Linked DNA regions of Homo sapiens. The protein of the gene in region 2 interacts with the protein of the main gene of each other region in a pairwise test. Each region holds a gene or a part of one and is shown on either strand. Other genes may lie near its edges.

Region 1 (5,806 bases), on a different chromosome or scaffold from region 2:
ATTGCTCTCTTCAAGCCTTAATTTGATGTCATATTAGCAGTAAGATCTTCTTCATAACCCCACCTTACCCTGGTACTCCTTTCCTCCATGGTAATTTTCACTACCAAAAATGCTATGTATTCTAAAAACTATATACTATGTATTCTCCTTATTTATAGTGTCTGTCTGTCTCAACAAGAGAGGGCAAAGCTTCTTGATGTTTTGTTCACAGCTATATCACATGCACCTACAATGGTGTTTAACATATAACAGTACTCATTCAATAGTTGTTGAATAAATTAGCTGAGATATAATGAAAGAGCTGTTACTTAAAATGCCCTGCACTCAGTATCACTTGCTACGTTACATAACATACTAAAATCAATCTCACCATAATTCTTAAAGAAATGGATCTTTTATTCTAATTTTACTTTTATGAGAAATAAGGAACTGATGAGGAAAAAAGATTAGGGATACAGTTTTTAAAATAAGTATCAGCATTTTCTTAGAATTCAGTAACTTACATCTATAATATGGAACAATAAGGATTTGATCCTTTTCCTCTGTGAAGCTCTTCTTCCTACCTCTTCCCTCTCAACCACTGATCCCTCAGAGTACCACTTCACCTTTACCTTCCCACTATCACTCCATCTTTCTTGCTGCTTGAAGTCAAACATTCAAAGGCTTCAAAATTGTGGATCATCAAATAAATGTTAAATTGAGTTAATTATATCCAGTTATAGATATAGACATATATTTTGAAAATATTTTCATTGACTACCCTGAAACCACAAAAGTGTTACTGTTAAGTAACGAAAACGCCATTCCTAGCATTTTCTGATTAATCAAAATTTTACTGAACTTAATCTTAGATGTGAGTTTCTTTTTCTTTTTCTTTTTTTTTTTTTTTTGTTGTTTAACGAGGAGCGTAAGACATTGGATAAGATCCAGACTGAAGAAATGTTGAACAGAAATGATTAACAATTTTTTAAAAGTATATTATAGAAATTGGTTTTTGTGAAAAACACAAGACGACTATGAGAAAACTTTGAAATCACTTTATACTTGGGACAATTTGAGTTATCAAAGTTTCCACTTTGACAGAGGTAGGATTCAATAAGAAAGTACATGTTGCAACTACAAAAAGTTGAAAGGCAAGTATAAATGAAAAAAGAAATTTAAGTTCCTGCTGCCTCCATTGTGGTTCAATCTCTTATAATAGCTTCCTAGTTGCTTTTTCATGATCAGACTGTCCCCTACCAGCCTATTTAAACTGTTTGCAAGTTGATCTTCCTATTGCAGAGCTGGGATACTATTTCTCCATACTCAAAAACCTTAAAAGCAAAGCCCCATTTCCTGAAGCACCACCATGTAAACATCTTTCAAAACATGGTCCTATTATTAGATGGCCTTGGTGCATATTTTCTTTAATATTTCCCACAAGGCTGCTATGCACACGTAGCACAGAAGTCAAACTGGGCTGTTTATTCTTCAATCACACCCACTGATTTCTTCTTCTATTCCTTTATAAATTAGCTCTCTCCTCCTGAAGTGTCCACTCCTCACACCATCTTTCATCAGCTCCTTCTAAAAGCCCACTCATCCAGTTATCTCATAAAGCCTTTCATGCTCTCTTCTAACCCTATAAGCATTCCCTCTATTCCAAAGTATCGCAGAACTTCACATCTTCCTGAGGCACCTAACAAGCCCCAGCTTATATCATAGTTGTCTATGTATTTATTTTATTCCTTCCCATCCATGTCATCCCTGCCTGATTCTGTAAGGTCTGAGGCTGTGACCTATTTACCTTTAGTTACTCAGGTAATAGGATAGAATCTTTTCCACATGACATGCTCAATTGTTCCTTGATTTATAAAGTGACTAAATATCAGGAGAGACACTATGGAATCACAGTTGCTGTTCTGCTCAGCAGCCAAAACCTAGCTCAGGTGTCCTCTTGAGAAATTTTCCAAAGACCTATTACAGGGATCTACAAGAAGACAAGGGCACCTTGTTTGAATTCTCCTGCAGATCCCACAGAATACACACAATGGAGGGAAAAACCCCTTTGAAAAGTATTGGACTGGGAAAAAGGAGATAGCCTGGGCACTGCCATTTAAGTTTCACCTGCACCAATCTCTTTAATGATTTTTAAATAACATCATGTTATAATTTGGAAAAAGGAATACTGACTTACTTATGCCGAGTAGAACAGAAATCAACAAGCAGAAACTACGTTTTCCCAGCAAGAAAACTGGGTTCTCTATAACAAGATTTTTCTGAAGACAAAGACATCCAACTACACATCTTCTTTGGTAGCTTTTAAATATCACTGTGTCACTAGGTCATGGTCTCTGCCACCTGAGTTAGACATGTGTCCCACACAGCAAGCATCCTACACAACTGCTGCATTTTAAACTCCAGAAGAGGCAAAAGAGGGGATTCAAATATTCCCAATGGAGGAGGTTAGGTTTTTTTATTCAGAGTTTATGAAGTATCAAGTTAAAGGTAGAATGTTCTAATAAAAATATATAAATATTTTATTATTCCACTCCTATACTTTCATTGCACTTAAAGAAATTAAGTTGTATAGATTTCATCAAGTTTATTTTTCAAAAGGAGAAAAATTAGAACTCAGAGTGCTTTACGTAGGATTCACAAAGCTTCAAAGGTCAGTGTTCAGAGGAAATCAGATGACAACTGCATTTTAAAATTCTTGATTCTGCCCATAATTCCCCAAGGGAAAATCTGTAGCTCTATGTGCTAGTTCAGAGGTGAATTTTTTAAAAAAGAAACTTTCTTCCTACTCTGCTATTTATTCATATTTTATAAGTATTCAGAAGTAATTTGACATCTATACCTGAATATTAAAAATACAGCTTTGTTTTAACATACAACATAGTTTTATGAATCATGCATATAAAATACTGCTATTAGAAAAACTTCTTTATAACATAATGATTACCTGCCTTAAAAGAAAATACGTTATAAAACAGTAAGGCCGGTTTTAAATTGTGCATAGAACCAGTAATTGTATCTTTAAGGCAATTAGAAGATTTATTGAATATTGGTTAAAAGTAGATTGACAATGACATTAAAGAATAAAGTGTAATTTATTTGGTGCTACTTTGTGAATGCTTCCAAGTACAAATCATCTCACAATACCATATACAACATACTTTCAATCACAACTCAAATATAAAATAACCTACAAAATCACATTGCTATAATCAATATACAATAATTGTATTTTTAAAAGAAGAAAAAACGTTAGCAATTTTAAGTTAAGTTGCAGTAACTTTTTTCAAATAAAATATTAGCACCATACCAGATAAAATAATCTAAAACTATTGGCCTTCTCATTCTTCTTAAATAACTAAATAGAAACTTTTTTTCAAAGCACAAATATTAATTTGTAAAATCAGTTCTACAGTAGTTAATATTTCTTTCTTTATTGTTTCTTTTTTGCATTTTTCCCTATAAGGAAAAATATGAATTAAAAACTTTCACGGGATATGAAAATCAAACAAATAAATCTGACCCAACCAAGTACTGTCCTTCAGCAATGAGTTCCGACAGAAGCAAAAGTGGACATTTCACGGCGTATGGTACTGAAAGGCGAGAGTTCGAGTTCCGTGGTGTACTCGTTGTCATTGTCATCACTGGTCACCGTTGAAGACTTCTGAATGCATTCCTCACAGCAACAGCAGCAGCACTCCATGAAGGCCCGACTGAAGGGTTTGCAGAGACAGAAAAGGAGGACTGGGGTGACACAGGACTTAAAGAACAAAAGGAACTGGCTGATGATATTAAGGAGGTCCATTGTCTGCTGTGAAACCCCTGTAGCCATGTAGGCAGTAACAATGTTGCAGATATTTTCAGGAATAATGCAAAATCCATATAAAATGGTCAGTGCCACTACTGTACAGTTCATCTGACTCTCTAGTTGAATCTGCCGTTTATTCCCTCGGGTACAGGCTTTCTCTGCTTTGCGGATTTTCCTCGCAGTCACTAGAGAGCAGGTGATGGTGAAAAGCGTGGGCAAACAAAAGTAACAGCCAAAATACCACCACAGTCTCGCACTGTCGTAGGTGAGGGCTAGAACATAGATGGTGTCTGGTAAATCAGGAGAGATCTTAATAATGCACCTTTCTGCCGGAGCTCGGCCACTAAACCCCAAATCCTCCTTGCTCAGCTGGCGGAGAACAACTTCTGGAAGTGCTAACAATAGAGCTCCCACCCATATAACAGCAAGTTTGGCAGTTGTTGAGGAACAGTTTTCGATCATTTCGTAGTACATCTGTACGTTGGTGGCAGCACGGAAGCGGTCTATGCACAGAGCACATAAGGTGAAAGTGGTGACTCCCAGAGAAGCGACCTGTGGGGGAACATAGAAGACATTTATTCCCGGTGTCCCCCGAAAGATCAAAGCACTAGGAAATAAATGCAGATTGGCAAAACTGTAAAAAAAAATATGGATAAATAAAAATGAGAGAGAGAGAGAGAACAGTTTTCCAGAATGAGGCATGGGTAACTGGGCTCAGGACGTCAGCTGAATCATTGTAAGCATAAAAAAAGAAAACACACTGTAGTGGTTTGAGGGTCATGGAGTGCAGAACATTTAGGACTGGAAGGATCCATAAAGATCAGCTAGTCCAATCCCTTTTTATTATAGATCAGAACCCAGATACACTAAAAATTTTATTCACCACGAAAATGTCTGCCACTAGGAGATCTAGATAAGGAGTCAGGGTAGTGCAGAAATTCCCATTTTCATTGCTGACCAGGATGCTCATGTTTTCCAGTGTGAGGGTCAGTAGTGTGCCTTACACACAGCAAACACTCAAGAGCTTATTGTCTCCAATGGACTAAATGATTGGAGGGCTCCTCCAATTTTTCCTAAATGCAAAATAAAGTATTACAGTATTATTTTCAAAGGCATACACTTACGGAAAACAAGAAAGGGAAATTCTCCAGAGGCCAAAATCAAAAAGGAAACAAATTTCAAACAGGCCAGAGACCCCTCCCTCTTCATGCTGCGTGTTTGCCCTAGGGGCACCTGCCAATCCTGGTGAGGGTTTCAAGTTAGTTTTAGCTAGAAAAATGGGGCAAGGTGCCCAGGTGCACAGAGACAGGAAACAGAGCTGGGGCCAATGTGGGTGGGGATTGGGTCAAAGACTCCCTGTGAATTTGGAACTCCTCAAATGCTGACATCTTTAGAGGTGTAAAGGGAAAAAAGAGAGAGAGATAATGAAGAAATCTGCCTGGATGACAGGGTTTGGGTCTGGATGAACTGGGGGAAAAGGAGGGAAAAAAATGGCAAATTCTAACTGGGAGCCTGAACTTACATGGTGTTAGGATCAGAATTTCCAGGATCTACGTGGCTCAGAAAACCCAAAATACAATTTAAAATAATCCCAGGCACCTGGTTAAAATCAAACATAAATCCTCTCTGGAAGAATGCACTTTAAAACCAGGCCTCAAAAAATCCTATAGTTAAAATTCAAGGGACATGGGTTCACAAAATCAAAAGTCACAATATGCAAGAGACAATGAGCCACTATGAATTTATATGCCAAAGATACAGAATCAGACATAAGAAGTATATTTATCATAAAATAGGTATGTACATCAAATTTAAAGAAATAGGAGATACTAAAATAGAACATGTAAAAATACAAGAAAATATGCAGAAAATAGCCAAAAAGAATGTCTAGATATCCCAAACACAGGAAAATTTTGGAGCATAAAACTCTTTGACAATAACCACATGAAAAACTGTATTCAAAAAGGCACTGCTCTTATAAGCATATGGTCCAGACATCTA
Region 2 (7,797 bases):
ATGTATTCTGTGTCCGAAAAAAAGACTTCCAATTATTTCGTTTTTGTTCATTTGAATAAAGATATGAATACATGTTCTCATGGCAGCCTTCTCACTTAAGTAGGCTAGTAGAAAATGAATGGACAGTCAGCAGATGGAGAGACAGACAAGCAGGCAGACAGGGAGGTGGACTGTGCTGTGCCAGGAGCCTTGCCAAGGTGAAATACGATTTCACTATTTTTTACCAACACTTTTTTAACCTTGCTTTCGAGTCTCTTTAAAGTTGCCGAACTGTCATTTTGTTTGATGCCCTGGAGATTGTACCCCAGGGCAATACATGGTAAGATTTGGGCTGGGTGAAAGGTATGTCATCTTTTGTGAGGTGGGAGAAGGGTGGTCATGATAGAGGAGATGGGAGGAAGACGCAGCCAACCACAGACTCTCAGACATATCAGTTTCAGGAAAGTACACATACAGAAGTTGGCACTAGACCAATGAGCTACTCGACTACATTCTCCAGTGAAGGATACAGCAAGGAATTTTTCCCAAAATAGACAAGAAAGCAAGTAAAAAAGAAGCAAACAATTAAAAGAAGAAAAAAGTAGAATGAAAGTATTAAATCACATTCCTTATAAATGTGGAAAATAAAAGCTCTCCTTGTAAGCACAGAAGTAGATGAAATAGAGGCAATATCACATCAAATGTGAAACCTGACTCCCACTAGCATCTATGTTTGGATAAGGGTCTTGCTTTTAGGATTTGTGACTCAAAAATCTCACAAGGGTTAAACCCTTCATTTACAGTGGTTCTGTTTCTTATTTAAAACAGTAAGTTTTCTTTAGATCCCATACTTTAGTGAATCACATGGTAGGGAAGGGGATGGAGAATCTGAATCAAAAAGTAAAGGGGATGTGGCCAATTTTTACCATTTGGGATATTAACAAGTTTAACATGGCTCAGCAACTATCTTAAGTGTTATATCAACTATTATGACATAAGCTAAAGGTGTTGAAACATTATATACGGAGTGTGTTTTCTGAGAGGAAATGGGTGACAATTTGAAGGGTCGGTTTTTTAACAGAAGGAATACGTAAGAATTCAGAACAGATTCTCAACCAATGGTAATGTTCAATAAGGTTTGTGCAATGTAAGAAACATTTTTTTAATTTCAAGGAAACCACTGTTTCCTGTTATTTCTGGAAAATCAGTAAATGCTGGTTTTTTAAAAGAGAAACATTTATGGAGAGATATTAAGTGTGTTTTAGCTACAAGTATCAGATCCTTGTTTATTTATTTCCCCTAAGAAACTCTGTAATTCCATTTTAAATAAATGACATTTACTTTTTTTTTTTTTTTGAGACGGAATCTTACTCTGTCGCCCAGGCTTGAGTGCAGTGGCACACTTGGCTGACTGCAACCTCCGCCTCCTGGGTTCAAGTGATTCTCCTGCCTCAGCCTCCCGAGTAGCTGGGACTACAGGCGCACACCACCATGCCTATCTAATTTTTGTATTTTTAGTAGAGATGGGGTTTCACCATGTTGGCCAGGCTAATCTCGAACTCCTGACCTCAAGTGATGCACCCGTCTTGGCCTCCCAAAGTGCTGTGATTGCAGGCCTGGGCCACCACACCCAGCCAATGACATTTACTCCCAATTAAGGTTTCTGCCTTTTTATTCCCCCAAGTCAGCAACCCATGGGAAGCATAGGGCTTCTAGAATTTTCTCCACCTAGATAAATAAGTTTTTGGTAAAGATTTCCCTTTCTTGAATAACATCCATAATCTCCAGAATACACTATCTGAATGAACTATTTTAGTCAGAAAGTCCAGTGTGCTGCCTGTTTTATGGTAAACTGTTGGGATCTTTAAAATAAAGATTTTGAATCTATGCAAAAACTGTTAACCTCATATTACATAATTTGCTTACCTATGTAAAGGTATGTTCCCATGTTACATTCAATACAGGTATTTCCCTTCATTGCAAAAGTATAATCTACTTGGTGGATTTTATTCAATGTGAAGTATATACATGAAGAACTTTTCATTATGTTCCAATAAATATTTAAGGCTGTCATTTGAAGATTTAAAAAATCAGTAAATGCATAAACATTTCTATGCTTGCCAAAATCTCTTTCACAGCTCTGCTAAGCACCATGGTTACTGACATGAACAAGTTAATGTTGGGTATTTTAAAGATCCAAGTAGTGCAAAATCAGCCAGTCTGTCACACTGGTAATTTACCATGAAATCAATAATTACTTTTGTTTTGTTGGGGGTAAATGGAAATAGAAAAACAAACAGAAGAAAATTCAGCAATGGAAAGATTCTAAGATGAAAAAGCAATAACTAGTTTGCTGCCATCTATGATACAGCCATACCTATAGGTTTTCAACATACTTACTTAAACAATGGAGTTCCACAAACAACACATTTATATATTCCAGGATCTTTGTGATGTGTGTATTCTCCTTCAAAGGCACTGATAAATAAACAGATCATTTAAAAAATTAAAGTTAGCATTATTTCTTACAGAATGTATTTGCTTAAAATATATTTCTCTAATAAATCTTTCAAGGGCTTTTTGTACTAGAATGAAAACAAACCAAACATATGGAAATCTGAACTTTACTAATATATTTCAAATCTATATAATAAAATGTGCATATAACTACTCCAAACTAGTGCAAGTTACATAAAAAAATCAAGCCATCTAGTTATGTAATGCTTAGAAAAAGATTTTTTTCTATTAAAAAAAAAAGCCTGTAGTTTAGATTCACAGAAAGAACATTACATAAGATTTTGCTACTTTACAGTGTGCAAGAGTATATACCAGAAAATGCAGAAGGGTCCAAGACTTCAAGTGGAAGGAGTCTTATTTTTTGGTTTGAAAAGGAATATTGCAGCTTTAAGGGAATATTTTTCTAAGTTAACAATCTTAAAGGCTAGGAGGTCATTCAGCTAATACAAATCAGCTGTGCTAGCCCAACAAAAAGTCTATGTGCTCTGCAGCTTGTTTTTATTATCCTTTCACCCTCTTTATGAGGTCCAAATTTTTTATAAACAGAATTTTTAAGAATGACCTAATCTCTGGTTGTTTGTGTGCATTAAATCATTTTGCTAGTCATGTACACAACAGAACGGATAGAAATCCTCGCAAGCTGAGACTGAAGTCCACTGCTAGCTCATTGTATGCTAAGGTTGGACTTCGTCAGAGATTCAACATTTGGTAAATTCAGTAAACAGTAGATACTGTGACAGGAAGAGAGTGTTGCCTGTTAACAGGGATCCCATGTGTAGTAGAGAGCTCTTTCAGTTCATGAATGAAAACAAGAAGTTACATCATTAATAAATTTGGATCAGAGGTAAGCTACGGTCTTACGCCAAGCTCCATGGTATAAATTAGACAACAAAGTCGTCGGACCTTGGCAAGTTACCTTTGAGCTGGAATCAGCTGAGAGAGGCTTTATTCACTAAAAACAGTCTTGGAAGTGAACAAACTCTTTTTTCAGGACTTAGGGCGAACTTCCAAGGACCAAAGCCATGTGAGGGCAGTTATTGAAAATTTTTGACATTCCAACCACAAATGAGCCAATAAATACTTTCTCCACATGTGCTTCAAAAAGAAATTGGAGTTGGGTAGAAAAGAACTAAATTATGCTACCTTCTTTTTGCAGCCAAAACGTCTATACTTACAATGGCCACCTTCAAAATTTCAGCATCCTGGCATAGTGCCAAGTCCCTCATGGTTTTGCTTACTGTGATGTCTTCCCAAAAAATGTACCTAAATCGCTGTTACTTCCACACATTTTGTAGTAAACTAAAAACAGGCCCTTAACAAAAGCTTTGTGACTTTATATCAGATATGCAGTATTCATTAAATGGAGAAAAGAACAAATAAAACTTAGTCTTAACCTAAACAACACCATTTTAACCTTTTCAAGGATACTAATTCATAGACTTTAGCAAGTAAGTATAGAATGCTTTAAATTAATTGGCAAGGAAAAGCACTGCAGAGGGCAGGGGGAGAAGAAATCTAGCTCTTAATGACTTTTTATTAAAGCTCACCTTACCTTTCGGTCCCTTTCTCCTGAGTGACATGGTACTGCAGGGGTGTTAGCCGCTTCCTCAGTTCCTGCTGGGAAAAGACCACCTTACAGTTCTTTTTATCCCTACACGACCCTGAAAAGAGAGAGGATATGGGAGAAGAAGCCTTTTTAGCTTGAATCCTAAATAATTGCTTTGGCTGACCGCCACAGCACAGCTTCTGCAGTCACTTGTCAATGACCAGACCAGTCTCTAATGCACTGGAAATGCTTACCTGAACTGCAGCTGATTATTTCTCTACGTTTAAAATGAATGTTTCTTAAGATTCAGATGATTCCACTGGAGCAGTGACAATATGCTACAGCCAGTCTCTAGCATGTGATACTAAAAATTCACTGATCATTCACAAGGTACATGCTTTATAACTCCCAGTATCCTGAAACCCTTTTTTTTTCAAATAAATTCAAAAGCATAAGTCTATTTACAAACATTTATACTGTATATATAAAATGATGGGCATATTATGTTAAACCGTAAGTCTGCAATAATTTTGCAACTTAGTAGAATAGCCTGAAACCATCAAAATTCCATTTCCATTGTGGATGATTTAACTACCATCCTATTTTTGAGCCCTAAAAATATATTTTTCTATGACCAGGAATTACTGTTCTCCATGATTCCATCAGAAACTTCACTAGATTCTGTATACTCCTTCAAAGTATAAAGATTCTGTATATCTCTTCAAAGACTGTATCTTACCATGTTAAATGGGCAGCAAGAAACTTTCAATAAACTACAGGAGAAGGCATTTTCACTAATGCAGATTCAAGAAGTTCCAAAGAAAGAGTGGGAAAAACAGAAAGGGAGAAAGACAAAGAAAAAAGGAAATGTGAATATTTTTAGAAACCTACATTTTCTTTTTGCAAAGTATATCTAGGAAGACTTTACTGATTAACTGTATTTGAATGGTGAAATAATTCTAATGTGATTCTAATAACAATGGCAGCTTTTATTTCAACCTATACAGCCTGCAGTAAAATGTTCAGACAACACCTGTTTATATGTAGTATTTTATTTTACATGAGCAAATGACTGAAAAGAAATATAACTCCAGGACAGGGTAGCCATTACTCACTGCAGTAAAATTGCTTTTCTTTGCCATCCATCACAGTGGGAAAGAGGCCTGCAGATGGTCCTAAATGTAGAGAGTTCTTGCCATGTTTTGAAGTTACTAGAAGAAAGCTTGCTTAGTTTCCCAAATACTAAACGCAACTTCTTTTGAAATATAAAGAAATATGATTAGGAGTGGAAATGCTTCCCGTTTTTTTTACGTTCAAGGTACCTAATGTCATAGTATGAGATCGCTGACCTTAAACTAGGAAAATATTGTCTAGCCGGTTACCCTGACTGTGGTGTTGAAGAAGGATATCAGCTTGCAGAATCCGGGCCACCAAGATAGAGCGGTTGATTCTCCACAAGAGAAAATGGAGGCAGCAAAAGAGCAAGCCAGACCCAAAGAGCAAGATACACCTTGGAGTGGGCCTGCAGGTTGTCAGACAGCACCTCTGCTGACCTTCCACAAATACTTCAGCCCTTCCCTGGCCTGCAAAGATCCACAGGCACAGCAGGCATGTCACTAATGGCATGTTGATCTCTCATCTCACTGGACCCCGTCTTATCCTAGGCTTTATCCAAATACCTACTACTTGTATTTTTGCTGTTATCAACGGTTAGGTAGAAATGTTTCCCTGAGAAATGTCTGTCCTATCAGAACAAGCCTCTCAATAGCTTGAATGCAAAGTGGCTCTTTCTTAAATAATCAGTCAACAGTGATAGGTGAGTTTCTGCTTAATTCAGTACAGACTTCTTAAAAATTATTTTATTCTCATGTGTTTGTTGGAAGGGTTGTATCTTAGTTAATACTGTCACAAAATCATTAAATGCAAACTTAACATGACAAAATGACTTGGTTAAAATTATTCTTTTCAATGGCATAATTAAAATATGTACAATTAAAATCAAACAATTCTATCCAAAATATTTTTGTTAATATACGTTCATTCATACAAAAAGACCAATTGTGTTCCCAAAGTTGAGAGAACTAAGCTACCCATCTGTATGTCATTTAGTACAAGAGAAGCAACTGCAGGTTTAAATTACATGGTATTGGATTGCAATTTCCTAACATTGGATGCTTTTCTGCCTTTTTACCTTGAGTCATTTACTAAGGAGTGTTCATAAAAAGTAGCTTAAAGCACAGATGCTTGCAAATCATTTAGGCAAAGATGTTTCTCTCTTTTTCATTCTCCCTCTCTCATGAATCTCTCTTTTCCGAAGAGAATAAAACCGTTGGTCAGTATTGATGAACCATGTCAAGTATTTGTACAAGAAAAAAAGGTAAAATTGAAAACATCTGATTGAAGTAAATAATACAAACATAAAAGCTTTACTAGTGAATGAAGGGTATTGAAGAGACTTTATTTCATAGATTAGAAATTACTTTTGATCTAAACATTCTTAAAAACAGATTGTTTTCCACTATGAAACATCTCATTAACTGTGCTACAGAGACCTCGTTTTAATGGCAAGCCTTGAAAGAGTGCTGCTGTACTCCTTTGTTAGTCTCCGTCTTATTTGGGAGGGGAATAAAGATTTCATTCCAGCTTTCTTTGTTTGTCTTTCAAGAACCACTAAAGCAGTATTCACACAAATTTTGTAGGAATGTGCCCTATGTCATAGCCTACAAATTATTTGGTTTTGGTGCACTTAAAGGTCATCTTCCAAATTAGCAAAATTTTTTTACATCCTGGCTTTTCAACCTTAAGTATAAATATTGTTTCCTAACTGTAAGTGAGGTTTGTCCTTTAAGAAATACTAGTGATTATTTAAAGTTGTCAAACTTTGTACATTTTCATTCTTTGGTTATACTATATTCTCAAAATAATTAGGTTTTCAAAGTATATCTAATACCAAAAGGAAATATATGTAGACTAGAAACAACTATTGTGATTTTACATTAAACAATTCAATGAGAAGTTGGTCAGATTTTAATAAATATCTTGCCACACCATTTAATAATAATAATATACTTCCTGGACAATTTAAAGCTATACTATTACATTAGCCCTTCTATCATCAGAACCAAATATTGGTATATATAAACACAGAAAAGCTTCACTTTTGTCTCTTATTTCCCTTCTCCCTATCAGACTCACTTTTCTAAAGTCATATGGTGCCACTGTTAATCTTGAAAAAATCATTTCATTTTGAAATTCTGGAGTAATTCATTGGATGGTTTCCCTTTACTATCTTCACTTAGGTACTGTAATTTTCTTATTACACAGGGTAATTTAACATTAGTATTATATGACATCTGTTCAATGACCTCTAAATTGGCTTAGAAGTATGTTTGGGAAAGATTTTTCCCTTTATTTAAATGTTTAATAGTGTCTTTTGAAGGCACAAGTGAGTGTGTGTGTACACACATGTAACACAATTACATATTTGAGGAGATAATATTGCCATTTTGGTATCTAATCATAACACCGTTCCTTACAGAGTAACTTTGAGATAGATCAGTTCCATCTTGAACATAGTCCAAGGATATTTTATTTATTGAAATATGTCCAAAGTCTCTTTTTATAGCGAAGCTTGTCCTGTGTTGTTGCCTCAAGGCCAGTATTGTTTCGAAGCCCCAGTATGAAGCTCTTGCTATTAGTACAAATAAACGTACAGCAACAGTTTGCTTTGTGGCTCTGCCTGCTTCCCAGCCACG
Region 3 (8,121 bases), on a different chromosome or scaffold from region 2:
ATCTTGAGGGAGGTAGGACATAAATAACTAAAGCTTAGGAAACTCTACTCACCAACCACCCAAGAACAGCCAAGCACCTGTTCCATATTGTACCCAAATTTGGCTACAGCCACACATAACTCTGTCTGCTTGGGAGAGTTAAAACATTGGCTGCCTTGGGGGAAAGGGGATAACATCAGAAGATAATTTAGCATAAATCATCCTCAAAGCAGTATTAGTTTTGACATAAATACTGGTTTGGTGGTACAACTCCTCTGCTTATTCACCTATACACCTTGGTTAAACGAGTCAAGCTTTCCCAGGCCTGTTTCACTTAGTCAAAAGGAAGTTATAGAAAGTAGTCCCTAAGGTCGCTTCCAGTTTTAGAACTCCATAAAATGTTGTGAGACCCTGAAATCCAAAATTACTCTTTCCAGAATCAGAGGCCCCAGTCGTGAAATGAGCATTGGCCTGAAGAACAAATGCTAAATAAGCCCACACAGCACCCCAAGCCATCATGCCATCAATTATGCTGCCCTCTGGAAAGACAGAGTAAGACATTAATTACAAGATGATAAAGTTCAACCAACAAAATATCCCTGTCCCTATCAAAACTTTAAGAATTTCCTCCCAATAATTTTTAAGCTATTAACTGTACACTTGATCCTCAGCTTCTCTATTATTTCCAGTCCTTAACCATTAACTTCATTCTAAGTTGGGGTAGCAGGGTGGGGTAACGGGTAGGAAAAAAAATCTGGGAAATCTTCTCAAACCTCTACCATCCTGTAAAGCTGGTGCTGGAAACCACCTGTAAAACCTTCCCAGCTTTCATCTGCGTGACTCCACTGATGCTAGAGCATATTTAGTGTGCTAAACCTCTAAAAGGAGTTGCTGTTCCTTACTTCTCAGACACTTTATAAGCAAGACAGTTTAGCCAGAACAAGCACTTACTCTCCTAATGAAAGATACACTTATCAAAAGGAAAGTCTTAAGGACCCCTCCTTGCCTGGTTTACAAGGCCCTTTCTGTGCTATCAGTGGGCCCACAAACTTTTAATGGAGGGTTTTTAGATTCTCAGAAAGGTAAGTTTTGAAATATGGTCAGTTCGTGTTTAGCTGAACAGAAGATGGGTGGACTGCAGCTGGCAAACTCAGAAAGCACTGCTGGGTAGCAGGTGATCAAAAAAAAAACAAAAAAAAGGCAAGTCCCTGGGCAAATGGTGTAGCCAAAGGTGATCATTATAACTAGAGACTTGTTACATAATTACTTGTTAACTCCTGACAAACAGATACACAGCTACAAAATGCCATGGTTACCCTAGCCATTGAAGCTAATGTAGCTGGTGCAAGAGTCAAGGTGTCTCCAATTAATCTCATTCAAAGAAATAAGCAATCCTGGGAACTATTCCCTCCCAAGGTAACTCGCCTGCTTTTACGTATACAAAACAGCCTCTAGCAATTAAGCCCATTGCCTCTAGAGACGAAAATCAGTGTTTCTCCTTAATTTTAATTTTTAAAGGGCAGAAGGGTTACAGAGGTATATTCAGAGAGCTAAATATTTATCACTTCGATAAAAACGACTTCCATTCCAAACTGGAAAATTTGAAAAGCTTCCCCCTCACCTTCGTCCCTGGCCAGCAAAAGCAAAACGCAAGACCTCAGTGTAGGATGCACTGCATTCCAACATTTTTCAAAAAGTTTACGACGATTTACCGAAGCGGCAAGAAGAAAAATAAAGCAGGCAGAAACGGGTGAGAGCGAGCAAGGTTTCGGCAGGGAAGAAGCCCGAGAAGCGCCCGGCGGCGCCGTGCAAGGCCCGGCAACGGGAAAGCGACCGGCACATGGAAAGCGAGCGCCCCAGTGGAGCGCGGGGACTGACAGCCGCTCGGTCTCCGCCGCCGGGGGGTCGCCCAGCACCCCCAGCCTGGCCCCCGCCTCTAATCCCCCTCCCCGACCTCTTCCACCGCAGCGCCGGCGATGCCCGCTGGGCCAACTTGGCCCCGGGTCAGTGCTGCAGAGCGCGGCCCCGGTTGCCGGGGAGGCCGCCGGCGCCCTTACCTCCTTCTGCTTGGGGTCCTGTGGGTAGACGTCGGGCGGCCCGAGCCGGGGGCGCTTCAGCGGTCTCTGCTCATAGCTGAGAAGCCCGAAGGCGGCCATGATCTCTCATGTTAACCGGCGAAATGAATGAGAGTTGGAGCTGGAGCAGCCGCCTCTGAGCACCAGGGAGCAGCACTTTGCAGACAGACTCCCTCTCTCCCCCTCCTCGCTCGCTCGCTCGCTGTGGCGCTGCAGGCAGGAGGAATAAAGCAGGTTGGATGCTGCCGCTGCCCGGCAGCAGACACGCACTGATGGGGACAGCCTTCGGCGGGTACTCGGCTGCGCTCGAGCCCCGGGACGCACCGCTCCGGTGGCGGCGGCGGAGGGACTAGAGGTCGGCCAGGGTCCTCCGCGGCGCCTGCCTCCTCTGCTCCCCCCTACCTTGTCTCCAGGGGGAGGAGCAGCTGATGGGAACGTGTGACTTTTTTCACCAATGGACCCAAACCCACCCCAGCTGGGCGCAGGATGGGGGTGGGGGTGGGGCACTGGAAAAAAAAAAAAAAAAACTTTTCTTGGCGCCTAGGCTGGTGGCTGAAGTGCTCGCCCAAGGCGAGGGTGGCCCTCCCCTCCCGGGAAGAAGCTGTGGAGCGGACCGCCCCCGCCTCTCTTCCCCGGCAGGGACCCTTCCCCCGCCGCCACGCGCCCCGCAGACCCCGCCACCTGGACACGGACCGGGCCAGTGCAGGCAGAGGCAGGTCTGGAGGGGGCGCGAGACGCAGGGATGCGGCCGGTGGGAAGCGGCCGGTGCCTCCTAGACGCCCGCCAGGTTCCAGTGGCGCATCCGCAGCTACGGTCCCCTCGGCGGCTCCGGGCAGGCGCCGAGGCGCGCTGCTGGCGGTCGCGGCGGCTGGAGGGGGCCGTGCTCACGGTGGCGTGGGGCCGACTTAACCCTTTACAGTCCCTCCAGGGGCTGGGGAAGGGGGTGAGGAGCGATGGCTGTGAGCGCCGACGGGGGCAGCCAGCCCGCAGGCGTCTCGGGCTCCTCCAGCCCGCCGCCTCCCCACGGCCCCAGCTCCTCTTCCCTTCCGCCCCCAACCCCCAACACTTTACCTGTTGGTCCGCGGCTAGCGGGCTGGGGCTGGCGGCGGCGGGGTCACTCCGGCCGCCGCAGCCTCCATCATTCGGGTTGGGATGGGGGACTTGGATTTGATTTTATTTGTGCGGTATCTGCCTCGCCCGGACGAGCTCCGGGAACGCCGCGAAGTTTGCCACTGTCTGGGGGCGGCGAGCGACGCCGGCTCGCCGCCGGCGTTCTCGCCCCCACGGCCCGGGAGCGCGAGCTTCCGAGTTGGCGGACGGCGGCGCGGCGTCCGCACTGAGCATGCCCAGCTCGGCGGCCGGACCGCGGAGGAGTTGGCTGAGAGCGCGGTGAGCGCGCTCCAATCCGCCTCTCCGGGTTTTCGCAGCCGCAGAGCGCGCAGCCCGCGGGCCCCGGCGCCGAGGCTGGCCCTGGGGTGAACCTGGGCGAGGGAGGGAGCGCCCTCTGGAGCCCTGCTCCAAGCCCCCCGCTGCACCCTCCGCCTCGACCTCCCCAGAGGTCGCGGTCCCCGTGGCCTGGGCCGAAAACCTCACCTGCGCCGGGAGCGTGGAAGGGGCGGGGGGGGTGATCCTCCAGGGCAGACCTTGGTCATCCAACCCGCCCTCGCTCCTCGCTTCGGGGCGCGGGCACCAAGATGCTGGGCCACCTGGCGCGAGCTCTGCGAGACCGGAGCCGCGGAGGCGGGCTCGGCCTGTCCTGAGGGACCCCGCGGGAGGCGTGCCCGGGAGAATGCGCCCGCACTTGGCCAAGAATGATGGCTGCCATTTATGGAGCCTTCGCTACGTGCCAGGATCTTGATAGTCAGAATCTCTGGTCCTTACAACCTTCCACGGTCTTACTGTACCCTTTTTATGGATGGAGAAATTGAGCCAGCTCAGAGAGGACCACTCACTTGCCGAAAGCCACGAAACGAGTCGGAATTTGAACCCACGACTGATTCTAAGTTTCTGACCTGTTTTCCCTGACTTGGACTTGGAGGGACTGGGTTCCTAACCTGTCCTTGCCTGATGGACTCACGTTCTCCACGGCTTGAGGCATTCTCGGCCTTCCCTCTCTGTAAGGTGGTAAAGGCAGATTCTAACCGGAAGCCTTTGATACATAGTAGGTGCTCTGGAAATGCTGGTTGAATCTGAACATCAACTTTGATGTTCGTTGACATTTAAGCAAAGGGGGAAGAAGGAGATAAATAAAGTGAAGGTAATGTGGTAGAGGCTAGTTCCTCACTCCTGATCCTGACCTGTGAGCACCTCCAAACCCAGTTTGAGGCTGAGTCAGGTGTTTAGCTTTTGGCTTCCTTAATCTGAACAATTACTTCTAGAGAGCATTTACCTAACTTCACTGGAGGGCATTTCCTGACCACCTTCCCCATCTTGCCCCAGGGTCTTCTCTTCCACTAATATCCTGGGATTAATTTCATGGCTGGACTTGCCCTTGTGATACAGGCATCTATCAAATGTAGCTCCCTTGTTTGAAAGAAAGGACAGTTTTTTGTTGTTGTTGTTTTCTTTGTTTGGTTGGTTGGTTGTTTTTTGAGACAGAGCCTCGCTCTGTCGCCCAGGCTGGAGTGCAGTGGCGAGATCTCGGCTCACTGCAAGCTCCGCCTCCTGGGTTCACGCCATTCTCCTGCCTCAGCCTCCCGCGTAGCTGGGGCTACAGGCGCCCGCCACCACGCCCGGCTAATTTTTTTTGTATTTCTTTTTTTTAGTAGAGACGGGGTTTCACAGTGTTAGCTAGGATGGTCTCGATCTCCTGACCTCGCAATCCGCCCACCTCGGCCTCCCAAAGTGCTGGGATTACAGGCGTGAGCCACCGCGCCCGGCCGAAAGGGTTTTTTTTATTATCTAACTTTATTAGGGAAATTATTAAACATACAAAAAGCTGAAGAAATCATATAAGGAGCCCTCAAATATTCATCTCTCAGCTATAAAAATTAAAGTTACTATTTTTGTTTCATCTTTCTCCCCCATTCCCAACTCACTGACATACACTAGTAAGGACAGTTTTACTCATTGTTGCAACTCAGAAACACTGTATGGGACCTGACACATGGTGAGCATTCAAAAATGTTGGCTTATGGAATGGATGATAGGTAGGCGATGTGTGGATGGACTGATGATTGCATCATTAGTGGTACTTTGGGAATAACAGCCTGCGCTGCTACTGAATCAAACACCCCTAGTTTGGGGGAGAAATGTAATCTCAGTTCTTCCCTTGGGATGCCTAAGCAAGCGCCTCCAACTGAAACACTTTGAAGCACTTAAAATCTTATCTGCCCATAAGAATTTTATCTTAAAATCAAAATGTGTCAGTAGTGTGCCCCTGGTGTTTGGGAAGAAGGGAAAATAATAGCCCTCTCCCTGTTGTTGTCCCTTCTTAACTCCCTCTCCTGAAACAGTCTGGCATGAATTCCTTGACCCTCTCAACACAAAATAAATAAATATTGAAAACTTTAATATGCTTAGAAGCTTCCCCTAGGAATCATTATTTTACTGCATGGATTTCCCATGGGCATTTGGCTCCTTACCCTGGGAAATCTTTGTAATCTACCCCCTACCTAGCAATTCAGCTTTTTCTCCTTAACCTCTTGCCCTAGTTAGCTTCCTTTCCTAATATGGAATTCCCAGGCTCTTCATCTTCAAATACTCACCTCTACAGTCCTCAGAGTACGGATTCCTGTACAAAGCCCCTTCAAATTCCCCTGGCAAAAGGTGATCTTTTGGCTTTTTAGTGCCCTTAGCACTTAATTTTTATTATCTTAACACTTATTTATTGGCATGCATTTGAATGTGTCACACAGAATAGTCTTGTTGCCTCATTCTCACCTTTTCCTCCTGGTCCCCTTCTTCCATTCCAGGTCTTTAAGCAGACTAAGATCAGCTCATCATGATGGGCTTAACCTGTAACCCACTGTGTTCTATACAGTGCTTGAATTTCCCACGTGGTGCTGGTTAATATAGCAGGCAAACATTCTCGTTGAATAATGTGGGTTCTAGCTGATACTGTTCCTAAGGGGTATTTTATCTTTACCTAGCTAATGATTCCCTGGGACCAGGAAAAATTTGCATGGAACAGAAATTAGAGAAGACCAGAGGCTCCCCAAATAGGTCCCAGCCTTGAACCTCAGCCTAGCAAGAAGGGATGAGTTCAGGTTCCTAAGGAAGTTTTGTATAGCTATCCAGGGAAATGGGGTTGAAATGTGGCTGGAGAAAGGTGAATGAATTACAAACCATTTTAAGCATATGGTGCTATATCCTCCAAGTATAAAGCTGAGTCTTCACTGCTGCTTTTGAGGGTTACCAGGTATTTAAAAGTTGACCCTTTTTCTTGGGTCACATTCAAGGGTTTCTCAAAGATTCCCTAACTGCTTATGTTCCCTCTGAAAGCCCTGATTTTCAGCATTCTGCAAGGAGTCCCTCACAGTTGGTATCCATTTGTGCTTTTGGGCAAATCCCTTCAATATAGCTCATGGCTGGCTTTCTCTCCCTACATTTGGTCTGCCAGAAATACACAAATGTCCTTTGCCTGTACATACGCTAGTGCAGGCATTTTCTAACCAGCCTTCTGTCCTTGCCCACCATGAACACACTCTGCAAGCCACAATTCTCCACCTTGAAAGTTCAATAGTCTAAATCGGAGACCAGTTCCTCAGGTTCATCCAAACTGCAGAGGATGAATGTCAAATGCTCAGGTCAGTGACCCTCTCAAAAAGTTTGAAGTGAGGAATAAAATTTCTTTGGTGAAAGGCAGAGACACAATCATTTGCAGAGAAGTTGTTTTTTGTTTTGTTTTGTTTGTTTGTTTTGTTTTGTTTGAGACAGAGTTTTGCTCTGTCACCCAGGCTGGAGTGCAGTGGCGCCATCTCTGCTCACTGCAATCTCCACCTCCCGGATTCAGGCGATTCTCCTGCCTCAGCCTCCTGAGTAGCTGGGATCACAGGTGCATGCCCCCACACCTGGCTAATTTTTGTATTTTTAGTAGAGATGGAGTTTTGCCATGTTGGCCAGGCTAGTCTCAAACTCCTGGCCTCAAGCGATCCACCCATCTTGGCCTCCCAAAGTGCTGGGATTACAGGCATGAGCCACCGCACCTGGCAGCAGAGCAGATTTTTTAAATGAGAGTGAAGAATGGCTAGGAGCAGAGGCAGGATGTTTACCCATCAGAAACTGTGGTCCTGGCTGGGCATGGTGGCTCACACATGTAATCCCAGCACTTTGGGAGGGCCCAGGTGGGTGGATCACTTGAGGCCAGGAGTTCAAGACCAGCCTGGCCAACATAGCAAACAAAAAATTAGCTGGGCGTGGTGGTGCATGCCTGTAGTCCCAGCTGCTTGGGAGGCTGAGGCAGGAGAATCGCTTGAATCTGGGAGGTGAAGGTTGCAGTGAGCGGCGGTCACCCCACTGCACTCCAGCCTGGGTAACAGAGACTCTGTCTCAAAAAAAGAAAAAAGAAAAGAGAAAAGAGAAGGGAAGGGAAGGGAAGGAAAAGGCAGGGGAAGTGGGAGGGGGAGGGGGAAGGGGGAGGGAAGGGGAGGGGAGGGGAGGGGAGGGGAGGGGAGGGGAGGGGAGGGGAGGGAAGGGAAGGGAAGGGAAGGGAAGGGAAGGGAAGGGAAGGGAAGGGAAGGGAAGGGAAGGGAAGGGAAGGGAAGGGAGTGGTCCTACTATTCCTATTCCTATTTTACAGATTAGTAGGTAGGGCTCCAGAGGTGAAGCTGCTGTTCCCAGGCCATTGAGTTAGCGACTAGCAAAGCCAGAATCAAACCTAGAATCTCTCTGACTCCCAAACTTATGCTTATTATTGTTGTCAATGTGTTACATGTATTAATTATCATTTACATAACACATAAAGGTGAGCCTTTGAAGACAGTTCTGGTATAAGAGAAGCAAAACTCCTGACAGCTCACTCTGGCATAGCAGCACAATTCCACTCAAGTGGAAAGAAACAATTCTCAGTGTAGTGCCTGTAGGTAAAGTAATTAAAGTTGCTAGCTTTCCTCATGGGATTGTTGCG

The links.
Region 1: the proteins of MSRB3 (region 2) and GPR37 interact in binary tests that used the Homo sapiens proteins (3 or more experiments, as listed by UniProt).
Region 3: the proteins of MSRB3 (region 2) and MED12L interact in binary tests that used the Homo sapiens proteins (3 or more experiments, as listed by UniProt).

The regions. Positions count from the first base shown.
Region 1 is NC_000007.14:124,742,987-124,748,792, forward strand, and holds the end of GPR37 (prosaposin receptor GPR37 precursor), read right to left. Parts: intron 4,358-5,806; coding exon 3,539-4,357; 3' UTR 899-3,538; downstream 1-898.
Region 2 is NC_000012.12:65,323,186-65,330,982, reverse strand, and holds part of MSRB3 (methionine-R-sulfoxide reductase B3 isoform 2 precursor), read right to left. Parts: intron 4,158-7,797; coding exon 4,049-4,157; intron 2,458-4,048; coding exon 2,380-2,457; intron 1-2,379. UniProt on the Homo sapiens protein: Catalyzes the reduction of free and protein-bound methionine sulfoxide to methionine. Isoform 2 is essential for hearing.
Region 3 is NC_000003.12:151,080,941-151,089,061, reverse strand, and holds the start of MED12L (mediator of RNA polymerase II transcription subunit 12-like protein), read right to left. Parts: upstream 3,399-8,121; 5' UTR 3,126-3,398; intron 2,408-3,125; exon of another isoform or gene 2,265-2,407; 5' UTR 2,136-2,264; coding exon 2,037-2,135; intron 1-2,036. UniProt on the Homo sapiens protein: May be a component of the Mediator complex, a coactivator involved in the regulated transcription of nearly all RNA polymerase II-dependent genes.